2 linked regions of the Homo sapiens genome follow. The protein of the gene in region 1 interacts with the protein of each later gene in a pairwise test. Each region holds a gene or a part of one and is shown in the gene's direction. Other genes may lie near its edges. The genes, in order: BTBD6 and GRSF1.

Region 1 (9,050 bases):
GAGTTCGAGACCACCCTGGACACCATAGTGAAACCCAGTCTTTACTAAAATACAAAAAAAAAAAAAAATTAGCCGGGTGTGGTGGCGGGCACCTATAGTCCCAGATACTTGAAAGGCTGAGACTACAGCATTGCTTGAAGCTGGGAGGTGGAGGTTATAGTGAGCCAAGATCATGCCACTGCACTCCAGCCTGGGCGACAGAGCAGCAAGACTCTGTCTCTTAAAAAAAAAAAAATAAAAATAAAAAATTAGTGGGTGTGGTCTAGTCCCAGCTACTGAGGAGGCTGAGGCAGTAGGATCACTTGAGCCCGGGAGGTTGAGGCTGCAGTGAGCTGTGATTGCACCACTGTACTCAGGCCTGGGCAACAGAAAAAAAAAAAGAGAGAGAAAGAAAAAGATGTACTAATGTGGGTGAGACTTTGATGCTCATTAATTATTGAAATAGAAAACTCATTTCAAAAACACTGGTAAATATATCAACGGCTGGGCACAGTGGCTCACACCTGTAATCCCAGCACTTTGGGAGGCCGAGGAGGGTGGATCACCTGACGTCAGGAATTCAAGACCAGCCTGGCCAATATAGTGAAACCCCATCTCTACTAAAGATACAAAAATTAGCTGGGGGTGGTGGTGTGCGCCTGTAGTCATCCCAGGTACTAAGGAGGCTGAAACAGGAGAATTTGCTTGAACCCGGGAGGTGGAGGTTGCAATGAACCAAGACTGCGCCACTGTACTCCAGCCTAGGCGACAGAGCGAGACTCCATCTCAAACAAACAAACAAAAAATTCAAGACAAGCCAGGCAGAGTGGCTCATACCTACATTCCTAGCTACTTGGAAGGCCGAGGTGGGAGGATTGCTTGAGCCCGGGAGTTCGAGGTCAGCCTGGGAAACACAGCAAGACCCCATCTCTTAAAACAAAAATCTGGGGCCGGATGCAGTGGCTCACACCTGTGAGTCCCAGAACTTTGGGAGGCCAAGGCAGGAGGATCGCTTGAGCCCAGGAGTTTGAAACCAGCCTAGGCAATATAGTGAGACCCCCATCTTTACAAAAAATGAAAAATTTAGCCTAGTGTAGTGATGCATACCTGTTGTCTCAGCTACTTGGGAGGCTGAGGTGGGAGGATTGCTTGAGTCCAGGAGGTCGGGGCTGCATTGAGCCATGACCTTGCCACTGCATTCTAGCCTAGGTGACTGACACCATGTCTCAAAACAAAAAACAAAAAAGACAAGCAAAAAGTGTTTTTTTCAAGACAAATCTGTCAGTGACTAGGGTGGAGGAGGAAGTGGTGGGCAGCGGCGGCACGGTGGGCAAACGCGGAGTGGCAGAGCGGCACGGGACAGGCATGGCATTTCATCATGGAAAGGAACCCATGTCAAGCAGCCTGGAATCTGCAGGCGCACAGCGACAGAGGAAGAATTAAATGAAGGAAAAACACTGGAAACAACCTTCAAAACCACAATAATAGGGGATTTTAACATGGTTCTCTGAAATTTGACAGACTGATTAGGAAAAAAAAGACTAAGGGACGACTTAAGACACATCACCATAGACTCAATCTGACAAGGATGTTCTAAATTCTGTACCCCATGGAGTCATCATGCTTCTCCAGTGTCTGTGGGACAGTTATGAAAATGACCAGGTATGATAGAACAAAGAAACCCTCAATATATTTCAGGTAACAGCACATAGGACATGCCATTTGACCCCAAGTGCAAAAAAAAAAAAACTAAAAATGAGCAAAAACAAGTAGTCCCCTCACCTCCAAACGCTGTTAGAAATTAAAGTTCAATCCTTCAGGTAACTTTATTAACTCAAGCGCTTTGTGTATTTAAGGCAGCAATGGGTCAGGCGTGGTGGCTCACACCTGTAATCCTAGCACTTTGGGAGGCCGAGGCAGGTGGATTGCCTGAGCTCAGAAGTTTGAAACCAGCCCGGGCAACACAGCGAAACCCCGTCTCTACTAAAAAATACAAAAAATTAGCCGGGCATGGTGGCAAGTGCCTGTAATCCCAGCTACTCAGGAGACTGAGACAGGAGAATCACTTGAACCTGGGAGGTGGAGGTTGCAGTGAGCTGAGATCGTGCCACTGCACTCCAGCCTGAGTGACAGAGCAAGACTCCATCTCAAAAAAAATAAATAAATAAATAAAGGAAGCAATGAAATTAATGAACTAAAATAACAGAAAACTAAAAATTAACAAAATTAATTATTTAAAGTAGGCAAAGGGACTAATAAGAAAAAGAAGCAAATAAATTACCACTGTCAAGAAAAGAATTAAAAAGTCCAACAGCCAGTATGGTGCTGACATAAAGACAGACCTACAGACCAACAGAACAGAACAGGACAGGACAGGACAGGACAGGACAGCACAGGGCCAGAAATGACAATGACAGACAGATGACCTTCAACAAGGGTGACAAGAACTTCTTGCACAATGGGGAAAGGATGGTCTCTTCAATATGCAGCGCTGGGAAAACTGGATATCCACTTGCAAATAAAGATAGACCCTTACCTTACATCATACACAAAAACTAACTCAAAACCGATGCAAGACCCAAACACAGACTTGAAACTGTAAAACCCTTAGAAGAAAACAAAGGGAAAGACTTCACGACATTGGTCTTGGCAATGATTTCTTGAACATGACACCAACAGCAAGGGCAACGAAAGTAAAAATAGACAAATGGGATGACCTCAAACTAAAAAGTTTCTGCACAGCAAAGGAATCTATTAACAGAAATGATATCCTATAGAATGGAAGAGACTATGTGCAAACCATCTATCTCATAAGGGGTTAACAGCCTGAATATACAAAAAACTCCAACTCAGGAACAAAATCGATTAAAAATGGGCAAACTGCACTTTTGTAATCCCAGCTCTTTGGGAGGCTGAGGCACAAGAATCGCTTGAACCTGGAAGGCGGATGTTGCAGTGCACCCTCACCACCGCACTCCAGCCTGGGCAACGGAGTAAGACTCTGTCTCAAAAAAAAAAGGCAAAGCCCTTGAACAGACGTTTCTCCAAACACGCCATGCAAATAGCCAACAAGCACATGAGTAGATGGTCAACATCATTATTTATCAGGGACATGCAAATCAAAACCACATGACACTACCTCATGTCCATTAGGATGACCATTATCACAAACAAAAAAGAATAGGCTGGGCGCGGTGGCTCACACCTGTAATCCCAGCACTTTGGGAGGCCTAGGCAGGTAGATCACTTGAGGCCAGGAGTTTAAGACCAGCCTGGTCAACGGAGTCTCGCTCTGTCATCCAGGCTGGAGTGCAGTAGCATGATCTCAGCTCACTGCAACCTCCGCCTCCCTGGTTCGAGCCATTCTCCTTCCTTGGCCTCCCGAATAGCTGGGATTACAGGTGCCCGTTAATTTTTGTATTTTTAGTAGAGATGGGGTTTCACCATGTTGGCCAGGCTGGTCTCAAACTCCTGACCTCAAGTGATCCGCCCACCTTGGCCTCCCAAAGTGCTGGGATTACAGGCGTGAGCCACCGCGCCCAACCTACACTGTAACATATTTAAAAATCAAAGTGCAAAGGGTGGTTTCTTTCTAAGGATGAAAATTATTATTCACATGCTCCACACCACCATGCAGATCAAGACGCTGACTACCTCTGGCGGCTCAGCAATTCTATCCTGGCACCCCCGGAGACAGCTGTCGCCCAGGTCTTGTGTGCTGCTGTAAGTTATTCCTTCTCACTGCATTCCCCAAATGGACCCACCACAACCTGCTGATCCTTTCTGTTGCTGATGGACATGTAGGCTGTCTCCACTCTGGCCATTTGTATTTCTCCTGGAAACTGCTTATGCCCGTTACCTTTTTCTATGGAAACAGACGGCTGGGACAGAAACCACGGCCACAGCAGCCAGCGTGTCTTTGCCAGTGGGGTCCCACACTATGAAATCGCAGCTGTGGCCTCGGTGGGTGTGTCCTTGGCGGGTGCATCCACACACTTTCTCTCGGAACTTTCCGGACTCTCATGCATATGCTACAGCTTTCCAAACGGCTTGGCCGTGCGGAGTTACGCACCCACCTGCAGCAGGTGATCTCCAGCTGCTCTGCATTCCACCAACACTACGTGACAAGTCTCAAGTTCAGCCGCCTGGGGGCTCGGGCACCCCATTCCTGGGAGAAATGATGATTTGTGCACTCTGGGCCATTGCATGGTGTCTGTTCACGTCCTTTGCCCGTTTTTTAAAAAACTGGGTTGTCAGCCTTTTCCTTCCTGACTTGTAGTTGCTCCTCCATCCTGGAGAGTCCTTTGTTGAAAATACCGCAAATATCTTCTGAAGAGGACTCTCCCAGGGAACATTCACTACAACTGTAACGACCACAGAGACACAGAGCTCCTGTTCACTGTTTAGCCCAGGACTGCGGTGACAGGTGCACCCATGACCCGAGATGCTGGCTGCGTCCTGTGGGGTTTCCTGCATATGGAAGTTTTAAAAGTCTAAAGCCTGGCGGTCCAGGAGGTTGCGTGTGTGTCCTCGGGGAGGAACCCTCCTGACAGCCAGGCCTCTGGAGCTTCGTCTGCACGCGAGCTTGGCATGCACCAGCTGTGCGGCCCAGGCCAGGTGACACGGCCTCTGAAGTCTGGTCTCCTCATCAGCAAAGCCAGTGCCCCATGCCACGCACCTCCCAGGATTAGCCCCAGGCCGGGAGGCTAGAGGCCCCACAAGGAGCGAGCCTGCGACTGCGATCCACAGGCAGAGCCACAGAGGCAGGGCGCGCCCTGGGGCCCAAGCTCCAGGGCTGCAGGCCCAGGGCCAGATCCTGACTTGCCCACCCGCCGGCTGTGTGACCTTCAGCGCGCGACTAACCTCTCTGTGCCTATTTCCTCGAGGAAAATGCCGGGAAATAGCAGCGCCTGCCCCTGTAAAGCCCTCAGAGCAGAGTGGACCGCGCTCTCTGCAAGCGCTGGCTGCTGGCGTCCGTAGCAAGCTAAATCGCGAAGCATCTGAACGAACGAGGAAGCCCAACGACCATCCCACAGGCCGCGGCCAGAGGCAGACTCCGGAATGCAAATGGCCAAACAAGCAGGTCCACCTGCGTTCCTAACCAAAAGATCGCTAACTGAAGAACGGGCGCAAGCACCTGCGCATGGCACTGCGGGTCTGGGGGCGGCCGCCTGCCAGCGCCGGGAGCCGCCTTCCACGGCTACCTCTGCACAGCGCGCGGCTCGCGCCGGTTGCTGGGCAGAAGCTCGAGCAGCTTCGAGGATGTCGGGCCTGGGGGCGGGGCCGCGAGGCAGCGACGTCGCGCGGGGCGCGGCCCTGACGCAGCGTGACGCACCGGCGCCGCGGCGGGTACGGGCTCGGGCGGGCGGGCGGGCGGGACGGCGCCCCCCGCGGCCGGGCCTGGCCGGGCTGCGCTAGGCTGGGCTCGGGCAGGGTCGCAGGGGCGGGGGTGGCAGGGGAGCGGGTGGCAGCCCCGCGGGTCACAGCGCCGCCGCCGCCCATGCTGCTGCCCCTAGCCTGCCTGCACGGCCGCGTCGCTCAGTGCCTGACCTCCTTGCTTTTGCTTGCAGAGCCGCTCCCGAGGCCCCGGCGCGGCGCGAGGGCGCGGGGCGCGGCGTCCACAGGCGCCGAGGCTGCCCCCGCCGCCCCGCCCGCGAAGATGGCGGCGGAACTCTACGCTCCCGCCAGCGCCGCGGCCGCGGACCTAGCCAACAGCAACGCCGGCGCCGCCGTGGGCAGGAAGGCCGGGCCGCGCAGCCCGCCCAGCGCCCCCGCGCCAGCGCCGCCGCCGCCCGCGCCCGCGCCGCCCACACTCGGCAACAACCACCAGGAGAGCCCCGGCTGGCGGTGCTGCCGCCCCACGCTGCGCGAGAGGTGAGCCCGTGCCCCGCGGCCCCCGCGCCCGCGCGCGCCCACGCCCCCAGCCCGTGCCTCTACCTTTGCAGGAACGCGCTCATGTTCAACAACGAGCTCATGGCCGACGTGCACTTCGTCGTGGGGCCCCCGGGGGCGACCAGGACGGTGCCCGCCCACAAGGTGGGTAGCGGCGGCCCCTCTCGGAACGCGTGCCCCGTCCGCCCCGTCCGCCGTGTGGCTGACACGCAGCCTGCGGGAGAGCCAGGCTCACGGCGGCGCTTTCTCCTCCCAGTACGTCTTGGCTGTCGGCAGCTCCGTCTTCTATGCCATGTTCTACGGAGACCTGGCGGAAGTCAAATCTGAAATTCACATTCCAGACGTGGAGCCCGCAGCCTTTCTGATCCTCTTAAAGTAAGTCCACTCTACTGGGGAGGGACGGGTGGGTCCGTTTTAGGCGGCCTCCGGAGGCTTCTGAAGGGAAGCACACAGGAGCTGATGGACTCCTCTCCCAGGCCCAGCCCCGCGATGGGTGCTTGGGAGCCAGCCCCTGACGCGGGCCCTGCCTCGCCTAGGTACATGTACAGTGATGAGATCGATCTGGAAGCCGACACGGTGCTGGCCACTCTGTACGCTGCTAAGAAGTACATCGTCCCAGCATTGGCAAAAGCCTGTGTCAACTTTCTGGAGACAAGTTTGGAAGCCAAGAACGCCTGCGTCCTGCTGTCCCAGAGCCGGCTGTTTGAGGAGCCCGAGCTGACGCAGCGCTGCTGGGAGGTCATTGACGCACAGGCCGAGATGGCCCTACGGTCCGAAGGCTTCTGTGAGATAGACCGGCAGACGCTGGAGATCATTGTCACTCGGGAGGCCCTCAACACCAAAGAGGCGGTGGTCTTCGAGGCCGTCCTGAACTGGGCCGAGGCGGAGTGCAAGAGGCAGGGGCTGCCAATCACCCCACGAAACAAGAGGCATGTTCTGGGGCGAGCCCTCTATCTGGTCCGAATTCCAACCATGACCCTAGAGGAGTTTGCCAACGGCGCTGCCCAGTCAGACATCCTGACTCTGGAGGAGACCCACAGCATCTTCCTGTGGTACACGGCCACCAACAAGCCCCGCCTGGACTTTCCCCTGACCAAGAGGAAGGGCCTCGCCCCGCAGAGGTGCCACCGATTCCAGTCTTCTGCCTACCGCAGCAACCAGTGGCGGTACCGCGGGCGCTGCGACAGCATCCAGTTTGCAGTGGACAGAAGGGTATTTATTGCAGGGCTGGGCCTGTATGGCTCCAGCTCTGGGAAGGCTGAGTACAGCGTGAAGATTGAGCTCAAGCGGCTCGGGGTGGTTCTGGCTCAGAACTTGACCAAGTTCATGTCAGACGGATCCAGTAACACCTTCCCGGTCTGGTTTGAACACCCGGTCCAGGTTGAACAAGACACCTTCTACACGGCCAGTGCCGTCCTGGACGGCAGCGAACTCAGCTACTTTGGGCAGGAGGGGATGACGGAAGTGCAGTGTGGAAAGGTGGCCTTCCAGTTCCAGTGCTCCTCGGACAGCACCAACGGGACTGGGGTCCAGGGTGGGCAGATCCCTGAGCTCATTTTCTATGCCTGAGGTGCCCGGGGAGGCTGCAGCAGGTCAGCGAGTGAGTGGAGGGGAAGTCAAGATGCTAACTGCTTCTTGACACCATGAAAGGCTGCTCTTAACTTTGTCTCTCTTTGACATGTAGTCAGCTGAAGCTTGACTGTGTAGAGACATTTTCCACACAGCCAGAACCCAGGGATTGGAGTCTTAGGCATCTCTGGTACAGTGGGGTGCACGTCTCAGGTGGAGGAAGATTTACGGCTCAAGACAGGCCCCAGATCCCCTCCCAGTGGCACCCATGCCACCTGCTTTGAGGGGTTGGATCTTCCTGCTACCCTCTTGGATTCTAAGTGGTTCCAAGCTTAACTTGAGACCTTCCCTTCAAATCTAAAATTGGCAAAAAGTCACTTAAAATAGTGGACTTCTGTAATAAAGGTTGCCTAAAATAACACCCACGTGTCAGTAAATGACTACAGCAGTTGTACAGTGGGGTATTCTCTTTCTCATGCAACAGAACAGCTCCCTCCCATCCCGAGGAGAAAACCTGTCATGCTGAACATGCTATGTGGTTAGGAGCAAACTGCGCCCCAGTGAAGCCCATCTGTCCCCTGGGTTGCTGGCTGGCTTCTGGGCCACCCTAGGAAACACCAGGTGCCTGGTTGTCTCTATGTCCTAATGCATCACTAGCACCTCAGAGTCCTACCCTATGAACAGACTGTCGGGGGAGCATTCTGCTGGGCCCAGCGTTCTGGACCCTGGGGACTGTCACTAGCTGTGACACTGCTGCGGGACAGCCTGTTGCAGGAGTGGACTATAGGGTGAAACAGGCTCTCCCACCCCTTGTCTCTCTCCTCCCACTCTGCATACCCTGTAGGCAGTTGTTTTCTGGAAAACCTGTATGACCCCCGAAAAGAGGGATGGCCCCTCTTGGCACCTGGGAGAGGGCATGGGCCGAGTGTATAGCCTCAGCCGGTGCCCCTCTGCTGCTGCAGCCCGTGTTGCTCAGTCCTGTTGGTGACCCAGCCCCACCTGGTGCTTCTCTACCCAAAGGACATACGCTCCTAGATGCAAACAGGCAAAGTAAGAAAGGGGCCTCTAAGCGGGCCATGGAAACCAGTCATCTGCTTGGTAAAGAAAGGGTAGGTCAGAACCATCGGGCAGTGAGTGCTGTTTTGATCCTTTCCTTCTAGACTTTTCCGCTAGGTTAGATTCTGCATGCATGAACACTGCTGCTGCCTCGAGGGAGAGACAGGACTTACCCTACACCTAACACACATCAAGAAAGGCATACAGGAGTTCCACAAACTCGCACACAACACAGAACAAAAGTGGCAGAAAAACCACAAAAGAGGGCTGTGGCTGGAAAGCACAACCAGGAGCTGCCCCACTGTCCCCATCTGTCCAGAGGCACCTGGAGCCAGGTGTGTCCCTTAAACCTTGTCCACACAAGATGCTCCCAGCACGCAGCACTTGTTTCCCTGTCTACACCTTCCTGCCACCTGACAGGCACTGACAACAGGCCTTCTGGTTTTGCAGCAGAAAGCAAGCCCCAGGCCAGGTGCGGTCTCATGCCTGTAATCCCAGTGCTTTGGGAGGCGAAGGCACGAGGATCACTTGAGGCCAGGAGTTTGAGGCTGCAG
Region 2 (8,895 bases), on another chromosome or scaffold:
AATCCTTTGAACCCGGGGAGGTTGCAGTGAGCCGAGATTGTGCCATTATACTCTAGTCTGGGCGACAAGAGCGAAACTCCGTCTCAAGAAAAAAGAAAAGAAAAGAAAATGACAGATAGTAGAAAGATATCTCTGTCCTTAGTCCGGTAGAGTGCAAGTCTTTTTTTTTTTTTTTTTTTGAGACGGAGTCTTGCTCTGTTGCCCATGCTGGAGTGAAATGCCGAGATCTCAGCTCACTGAAACCTCTACCTCCCGGGTTCAGGCGATTATCCTGCCTCAGCCTCCCGAGTAGCTGGGATTACGGGCACACGCCACCACACCCGGCTCATTTTTTGTATTTTTAGTAGAGATGGGGTTTTGCCATGTTGGCCAGGCTGGTCTTGAACTCCTGACCTCGTGATTCGCCCACCTCGGCCTCCCAAGGTGCTGGGATTACAGGCGTGAGCCACCGCACCTGGCCCAGTAGAGTGCAAGTCTTAAAGCCTGAGTTGTCTTCTTAGGTTATGGTTGTAGTGCTTCGTGGATTCTTACTAAATTCCAGTTTTACTTAATCCGATAAAAGAGACTTTACAAGTCTGTAGCCTCACACTGCTGCCGTTGTCTTTAAGATCTTTCCCTTAATCACTTGGTCTGGCATACCAGCTGACAGAGGAATATTCCCAAGGCGTCCTGCTGTCTTGTTGATTTACCCAGTCCTCAGTGTCTTGTATTAACTTATCTTTGCCTACCAAGTGAAGGACACACATTGAGCTCCACACTCAAGGCCCTCTGCTCTATGGTACCAACCTCTTTTGCCAGGTCACCTTCTTTGGCTCCTAATTTAAACAGTTGGAATTAATTGCTGTTATTCAAATGGGCATTTGGTCGTACTGCTTCTTTCTCTCGCCTTCAAACTGGAATACCCTATCTTTTATATCCTCATAAAAATTCTATCCTTCCTTCAAGGCCCATCTCATGTCACATCCTGATTCATCTGTTAGTGCTCTGATTTGAATTCCTGTAGTATTTTGTATCTTAATTATAGCACTCAGTATCTCATCTTGTATGCTTATCGTATTCTAGATAGCTATTTCAGATGAGGGCGGCAAACACTGTGTGTAGGGGCAATCAAATATTTGTCAAATTGTCAGGACCTTTCTTGTGTTGCCTTAACTACACTATTGTTAGCTATAATTTGGGGTTGATGAATTTTAAAACAAACCCTGAATGAAATTTGTGTCCTGCCAAACCTTTAGGATATACCTGCTTATGGCTTTTGGATGTACAATTTAAGCCAAAACAGGATGGGTTACATTGGTGAAGTTTACTTTTTGCTTCTGAAATAACATCTAGAATGTTAGTTTGTAGAATAAACATTTTCTAAGAATTTTTTTACATTTTTTACCTGTAAATGCAACTCTTTTTACAATTCTTCATTTCCTTTGGAAGGAGTCCAAAACTACTTACCTGGAAGACCTTCCACCACCCCCTGAGTATGAATTGGCCCCGTCCAAGTTAGAAGAGGAAGTGGATGATGTCTTTCTCATTCGAGCTCAAGGACTGCCCTGGTCATGCACTATGGAAGATGTGCTTAACTTTTTTTCAGGTATATTTTATGTATGTTTTATTTATTTATTTTTTTTCCTTATATTGTTTCTCACAAGCAGGTATGTATGTTTTAAGTATGTAATTTTGTCTGAGTAAAAGGTAGTGCTACAAATCCATGTCAGACTACGCTGTCACCTTCCTTTTTGATGGTTGGGAACTGTCTCATTCTGGTTGGTTGCATATACCAAATGATACCATGTGTGCTGTTTGCGGTATGTAACGAATTGAAAGACTTTGGGCCAGGGGCAGTGGCTCAGGCCTGTAATCAGCAGTTTGGGAGGCCAAGGTGGAAGGATGGCTTGAGGCCAGTAGTTCCATACCACACTGGGCAACACTGTGAGACTGTCTCAATTTACATATGTATAAAGACTTTGAATGCAACAAAAGTATTTTAACGTTAAGACTGCATAGTATGGGCCAGGCGCAGTGGCTCACGCCTGTAATCCCAGCACTTTGGGAGGCCGAGGCGGGCGGATCACAAGCTCAGGAGATCGAGACCATCCTGGCTAACATAGTGAAACCCCGTCTCTACTAAAAATACAAAAATTACCCAGGCTTGTAGTCCCAGCTACTTGGGAGGCTGAGGCAGGAGAATGGTGTGAATCCGGGAGGTGGAGCTTGCAGTGAGCCGAGATGGTGCCACTGCATTCCAGCCTGGGCGACAGAGTGAGACTCTGTCTCAAAAAAAAAAAAAAATCCATCATACTATGTAGGTTTTTTTTTTTTTGAGACGGAGTCTCGCTCTGTCGCCAGGCTGGAGTGCAGTGGCATGATCTCAGCTCACTGCAAGCTCCGCCTCCCGGGTTCACACCATTCTCCTGCCTCAGCCTCCCTAGTAGCGACTGCCACCACACCCAGTTAATTTTTTGTATTTTTAGTAGAGCTGGGGTTTCACCGTGTTAGCCAGGATGATCTCAATCTCCTGACCTTGTGATCTGCCTGCCTCGGCTTCCCACAGTGCTGGGATTACAGGCGTGAGCCACCGTGCCCGGCTGGTATGATGGAATACTACGTAGCCATAACAAAGAGTGAGATTATGTGCTTTGCAGCAATGTGGGTGGTGCTGGAGACCATTATCCTAAGCAAACTAACATGGAACATTAAACTTAATACTGTATGTTTTCACTTACAAGTGGGAGCTAAACAATGAGAACACATGGACACAAAGAGGGGAACAAGAAGACACCAGGGCCAACTTGAGGGTTGGGGAGAAGATTAAAAAATACCTATCGGGTCCAAGTGCGGTGGCTCACGCCTGTAATCCCAGCACTTTGGGAGGCCGAGGCGGGCGGATCACGAGGTCAGGAGATCGAGACCATCCTGGCTAACATGTTGAAACCCCATCTCTCCTAAAAATACAAAAAAAATTAGCCGGGCGTGGTGGCACGCTCCCGTAGTCCCAGCTACCTGGGAGGCTGAGGCAGGAGAATCGCTTGAATCTGGGAGGCGGAGGTTGCAGTGAGCTGAGTTCACACCACTGTACTCCAGCCGTGGTGACAGAGAGAGACTCTGTCTCAAAAAGAAAAATAAAACCTATTGGGTACTGTGCTTGCTACCTGGGTAACTAAATTATCTGTATACCGAACTCCCATAACACATGGTTTACCTATGTAGCAGTCCTATACATGTACTAAATAAAAGTTGAAAAACAAAATTACATGGTTTGAAATTATTTTTCTCTGTGGTATTAATATATACATATCAAAAAGTCAAGCCTGTCAGTGGAAATATGGAATTAAGGGTGACTCTTTATGTAATACAGACATTTACAATAGAAGGTCACTTAGTATCAAGGAATAAAGTTCCCTTAATAACATGTTTGGAGGGTTTACATATCTGTGGGATTTTTTTTTTTAGTTTCTGTATCTGACTATGATTTATTTTTATTAATTTTTTTGAGATGGAGTCTTGCTCTGTCACCCAGGCTGGAGTGCAGTAGCGCAATCTCGGCTCATTGCAACCTCCACCTCCCGGGTTCAAGGGATTCTCCTGCCTCAGCCTCCTGAGTTGGTGGGACAGCAGGCACCTATCACCATGCCCGGCTAATTTTTGTATTTTTAGTAGAGACAGGGTTTTGCCGTGTTGGCCAGGTTGGTCTCAAACTCCTGACCTCAGGTGATCCACCACCTTGGCCTCCCAAAGGGCTGGGATTACAGGCATGAACCACCATGCCTGGCTATTTCATTAATTTTTTTAGCTGCTCCTTGTGGAGCAGGAGTAAATCCTAGGCAGTATGCCCAGAGTGAGCCTGGTCAAACTTTTTTTTAAAGCCACTTGGCCACTTACATCTTGGACTACTCCCATTATAAAAAGTATGCAGTATGAAAAGGGGAAAAAGGCTGGGTGTGGTGGCTGATGCCTGTAATCCCAGCACTTTGGGAGACTAAGGTGGGAGGATTACTTAAGCCCAAGAGTTCAAGACCAGCCTGTGCAACAAAATGAGACCGCCTCTCTACAAAAACAAAAAGTTAAACTATGGTAATAAAATTACTCATACAGGAAATATTTTAGAGACCTATGGAGATGATTTTAAAGGAAGACACTTATGTATAAATTTAACTATATTGTATTTCCTTAAGTGATTGTAGAAACATTGCAATAGAAATAATGAATTTTGTGTTGGGCCTATCCTGATTTGCTATTTAATGATCAGGAAGGAGATCATAAGCTTCTGTGCTAAGGTTTGCTTATCTTTTCTACTTGGAAGGTTTTAGAGACTAAATCCTTATTGGTGTTTGGATGACTTCAGTGATGGGGATTTGTGTAAGGAATATGACACTTGTTTCCTGCTTTGTTGTTGGAAAACTGCATTCTTGTGACTTACATAATTGAGCTAAAAGTTTGATTTCTGTTTTCAATTGATTTTGCTCATACACTTTTAGACTGCAGAATCCGCAACGGTGAGAATGGAATACATTTTCTCCTAAACAGAGATGGGAAACGAAGGGGTGATGCCTTAATTGAAATGGAGTCAGAGCAGGATGTGCAGAAAGCCTTAGAGAAGCACCGCATGTACATGGGCCAGCGGTATGTGGAAGGTATGTGAAGTCAGATTATGGCTTTTTGGGATCATTGCATTAGGTTTTATACTTTTCAAGGTAGTTTTTATTTGATCCTTAATAATGAAGTATTTAGATTGTATGAATGCATTCTTTTATAGGATGTGAAAATAAAACATAAAGAGATAAAGTTTCTTTTTTTTGTGGGGGGGATGGAATCTCACTCTGTCACCCAGGCTGGAGTGCAGTGGTGCGATTTCAGCTCACTGCAACCTCTGCCTCCTGGGTTCAAGCAATTCTCCTGTCTCAGCCTCCCAAGTAGCTGGGACTACAGGCACATGCCATGATACCCAGCTAATTTTTGTATTTTTATTAGAGATGGGGTTTTACCATATTGGTCAGGCTGGTCTCAAACTCCTGACCTCAGGTAATCCACCCGCCTTGGCCTCCCAAAGTTCTGGGATTATAGGCGTGAGCCAGTGTGCCTGGCCAATGAAGTATCTTACAAGCTGTGAGAAATAAAGAAGTTATGCCCGCATGGTAAATATGCAATAAATGTCATTTGTTATTTTCTCTAGAGAAGCGCATAAAGATTAAAATAGTTATTGAATTCTCAGATAACCCAGCAAGTTGTAATGATTTTTTTTAATGGGTTTGTTCCTTTGTTATGTAAATTTTTCATCCCTGTTGGGTTTTTTCTTCGTAGTATATGAGATAAACAATGAAGATGTGGATGCCTTAATGAAGAGCTTGCAGGTCAAATCTTCGCCTGTGGTAAATGATGGTGTGGTTCGTTTGAGAGGACTTCCTTATAGTTGCAATGAGAAAGACATTGTAGACTTCTTTGCAGGTACTTTGCAGTTGTATTATGCTTGGGAGCTCATATCTTTTTTCCCTTGGTATCTCCTTCTATATCTTAGATGAGCCTGTTTCTGGGCAAAGGCATGCAGTTATATTAGGTTCTTTAGGGGAGAGCTCTTCACTTAAATTTCTAATATTTATAGATTTTATATGTGTTTTTGTTCTATCAGGCAGATTTTAGGAGGGAAGTCAGATTTCAGAATAATTTCATGAGGGTTTTACTATTGAAGGAAATAACTTCTCATAATAGTTGCTGTATTTGTGTAAGACAATAACAATTTATATAATTTAAAAGTATTTTCTAATTCCTAGAACCATTAGCAGTGAAGTCTGTGATTTCTATTGTTTCCTAGTATATAATTAACAGCAAAAAAAAAAAAAAAAACTGGTGGGGAGAATTGTATGTTTTGGGTGGGCTTCTTGGACCTTACCTATTCTGGAAATACAAGTATGTAGGTGTTGACTGACTTTTGACTGCATAATAATTTTCTTCCTGTCAAGCATGTATTCAGTTTTGGGACTGGCAAAACAGAATAAAAATTTTATTAGTATGTGAATGATGGTGTTAATTCTAAGGATAAAAAAGCCTGCTAGTAGCATTAAAATCTCTTGGTGTCCTAGGACTGAATATAGTTGACATTACTTTTGTGATGGACTATAGAGGGAGGCGAAAAACAGGGGAAGCCTATGTGCAATTTGAAGAACCAGAAATGGCCAACCAAGCCCTGTTGAAACACAGGGAAGAAATTGGTAATCGGTGAGTAAAGCAGATACTAATGATGCAGAAGTGTTACACATTAAGTCATTTTGATGAATGTGCTGTAATATGACTGAAAAGTTATCCAAACATAGAAAAGTAGAGAGAGTAGTGTAGTGAGCCATCAAATGCCCATAATTTAGATTAACAATTTTTTTTCGACTGCTCCTTTTTTTTTTTTTTGAGACAGAGTTTCACTCTTTTTGCCTAGGCTAGAGTGCAATGGCACGATCTTGGCTCACTGCAACCTCTGCCTCCCTGGTTTAAGCGATTCTCCTGCCTCAGCCTCCCAAGTAGCTGGGATTACAGGCGCCTGCCACCATGCCCGGCTTTTTTTGTATTTTTAGTAGAGACGGGGTTTCACCATGTTGGCCAGGGTGGTCTCGATCTCTCGACCTTGTGATCCGCCCGCCTCGGCCTCCCAAAGTGCTGGGATTACAGGCGTGAGCCACCGCATCCGGCTTGACTGCTCCTTGTGGGGCAGGGACTAACCCATAGACAGAGTACCTAGAGCAGCTAGATTAACACATTTATATATAAAATGTAACATCTGTTATATTTGCTTCATCTGGGTTTTTTTTAGTATGCATCTTTTAAAAAAATTTTTTTACATAATTTCAATGTTATATCTAACACTGTTAGCAATAGTATATTATCTAATAACAGTTCATAATAGCATTTTCCCAATTATACCAAAAATAGCCTTTTTTTTTTTGGCAACGGAGTTTCACTCTGCCGCCTAGGCTGGAGTGCGGTGGTGTGATCTTGGCTCACTGCATCCTCTCTCTGCCTCCCAGTTTCATGTGATCCTCCTGCCTCAGCCTCCTGAGTAGCTGGAACTAGAGGCATGCGCCACCATGCCCAGCTAAGTTTTGTATTTTTAGTAGAGACAAGGTTTTACCATGTTGGCCAGGCTGGTCTAGAACTCCCGGACTCAAGTCATTCACCCACCTCGGCCTCCAAAAGTGCTGGGATTACAGGTGTGAGCCAGCACACCGGACAAAAATACAGAATCCAGATAAGGTCTACACACTGCATTTGATTGTTATGTCCATAATTCTCTGTGTGTGTGTGTGTTTTTTTTTTTTTTTTAAGACACAGGGTCTTATTCTGTCACCCAGGCTGGAGTGCAGTGGCATGATGATAGCTCACTACAGCCTTGAATTCCTGGGCTCAAGCAATCGTCTCGCCTCATCCTCCCAACTAGCTAGAACAATAGGCATGTGCCGCCACACCTGGCTGTGTGTATGTGTGTGTGCGTGCGTGCGTGTGTGTTTGTAGGTGGGGTCTTGCTGTGTTGCCCTGGCTGGCCTCAAACTCATGGGCTCAAGTGATCGCCCGCTTTGGCTTCCCAAAACGCTAGGATTACAGGTGTGAGCCACTGCACCTGACCACTGATTCTCTTGAACTAGAGCAAATCCCCCTTACTTATTCTTCCCCCCTTTTTAAAAGCAATTGACTTTTGAAGAAATTAGATCAGTTGTCTTGTACAGTATCTCATGTTGACATCACCTCAGGATGCACATGATGATAAGTGGGTTCATTTGTGTTTTAACTTTAACTTTGGAGGTACAGTTTAAAATGTCAAATGTTAAATCACTGTTTCGTTAATTTTTTTTTTTACTGTTTTCTGGCCTTTTAAATCAGCTCCTTTGAAGTAAACAAAACAGCCATTCCAAAGCCAGTGTTTCAGGATCTACTGATAGAAGTGGTTCAAAGGTTTTTTGGTTTTTTGAGACAGGATCTTGCTCTGTCACCCAGGCTGAAGTGCAGTGCCACAAACACTGCTCATTTCAGCCTTGACCTTCTGGGCTCAAGCAGTCCTGCCATCTCAGCTTTCCTTGTAGCTGGTACCACAGGCATGCATCACCATGCCTGGCTAATTTTAGACAGAGTCTTATTCTGTTACCCTCGCTGGAGTGCAGTTGTGTGATACAGCTCACTGCAGTTGTGGCCTCCTGGGCTCAAGCAATCCTCCCACTTCAGCCTCCCAAGTAGCTGGGACTACAGATACATGCCACCACACCCAGCTAATTTTTGTATTTTTGTAGAGACGGGGTTTTGCATGTTGCCCAAGCTGGTCTCACACTCCTGAGCTCAAGTGATCCACCTGCCTCAGCCTCCCAAAGTACTGGGATTATAGGTGTGAGCCACTGTACCTGGTCTCCTGGCTAATTAAAAAAAAAAACAAAAAAAAACTTTTGTAGAGATGGTGTCTCACTTTGTTGTCCAGGCTCAAAGGTTTTTTTTTTAAAGAAGTAGTGCTCATCTAATCTTTATAGATTTGTAAACACAAGCTAGTTTTATAACTCTTAGTTTAGAAGGCCATGTTAAGAAAAAGGAAACTGTGCTGGGCGCGGTGGCCCATGCCTATAATCCCAGCACTTTGGGAGGCCGAAGTGGGAGGATCACTTGAGCCCAGGAGTTCAAGAGCAACTTGGGCAACATGGCAAGAACCCATGTCTACAAAAATAAAAAATAAAAAAATTAGCAGTGTGTGGGCTGGGCATGGTGGCTCATGCCTATAATCCCAGCACTTTGGGAGGCTGAGGCAGGTGAATCACCTGAGGTCTGGAGTTTGAGACCAGCCTGGCCAACATAGTGAAACCCTGTCTCTACTAAAAATACAAAAAATCAGCTGGGCGTGGTGGCGGGCGCCTGTAATTCCAGCTACTCAGGAGGCTGAGGCAG

The links.
Region 2: the proteins of BTBD6 (region 1) and GRSF1 interact in a two-hybrid assay, tested with the Homo sapiens proteins (one study listed by BioGRID).

What each region holds. Positions count from the first base shown.
Region 1 is NC_000014.9:105,243,233-105,252,282, forward strand, and holds BTBD6 (BTB/POZ domain-containing protein 6 isoform 2 precursor), read left to right. Parts: upstream 1-5,300; 5' UTR 5,301-5,479; coding exon 5,480-5,853; intron 5,854-5,916; exon of another isoform or gene 5,917-5,924; coding exon 5,925-6,015; exon of another isoform or gene 6,016-6,127; coding exon 6,128-6,246; intron 6,247-6,407; coding exon 6,408-7,440; 3' UTR 7,441-7,861; downstream 7,862-9,050. UniProt on the Homo sapiens protein: Adapter protein for the cul3 E3 ubiquitin-protein ligase complex. Involved in late neuronal development and muscle formation.
Region 2 is NC_000004.12:70,828,848-70,837,742, reverse strand, and holds part of GRSF1 (G-rich sequence factor 1), read left to right. Parts: intron 1-1,428; coding exon 1,429-1,585; intron 1,586-4,469; coding exon 4,470-4,625; intron 4,626-5,292; coding exon 5,293-5,436; intron 5,437-6,068; coding exon 6,069-6,204; intron 6,205-8,895. UniProt on the Homo sapiens protein: Regulator of post-transcriptional mitochondrial gene expression, required for assembly of the mitochondrial ribosome and for recruitment of mRNA and lncRNA. Binds RNAs containing the 14 base G-rich element.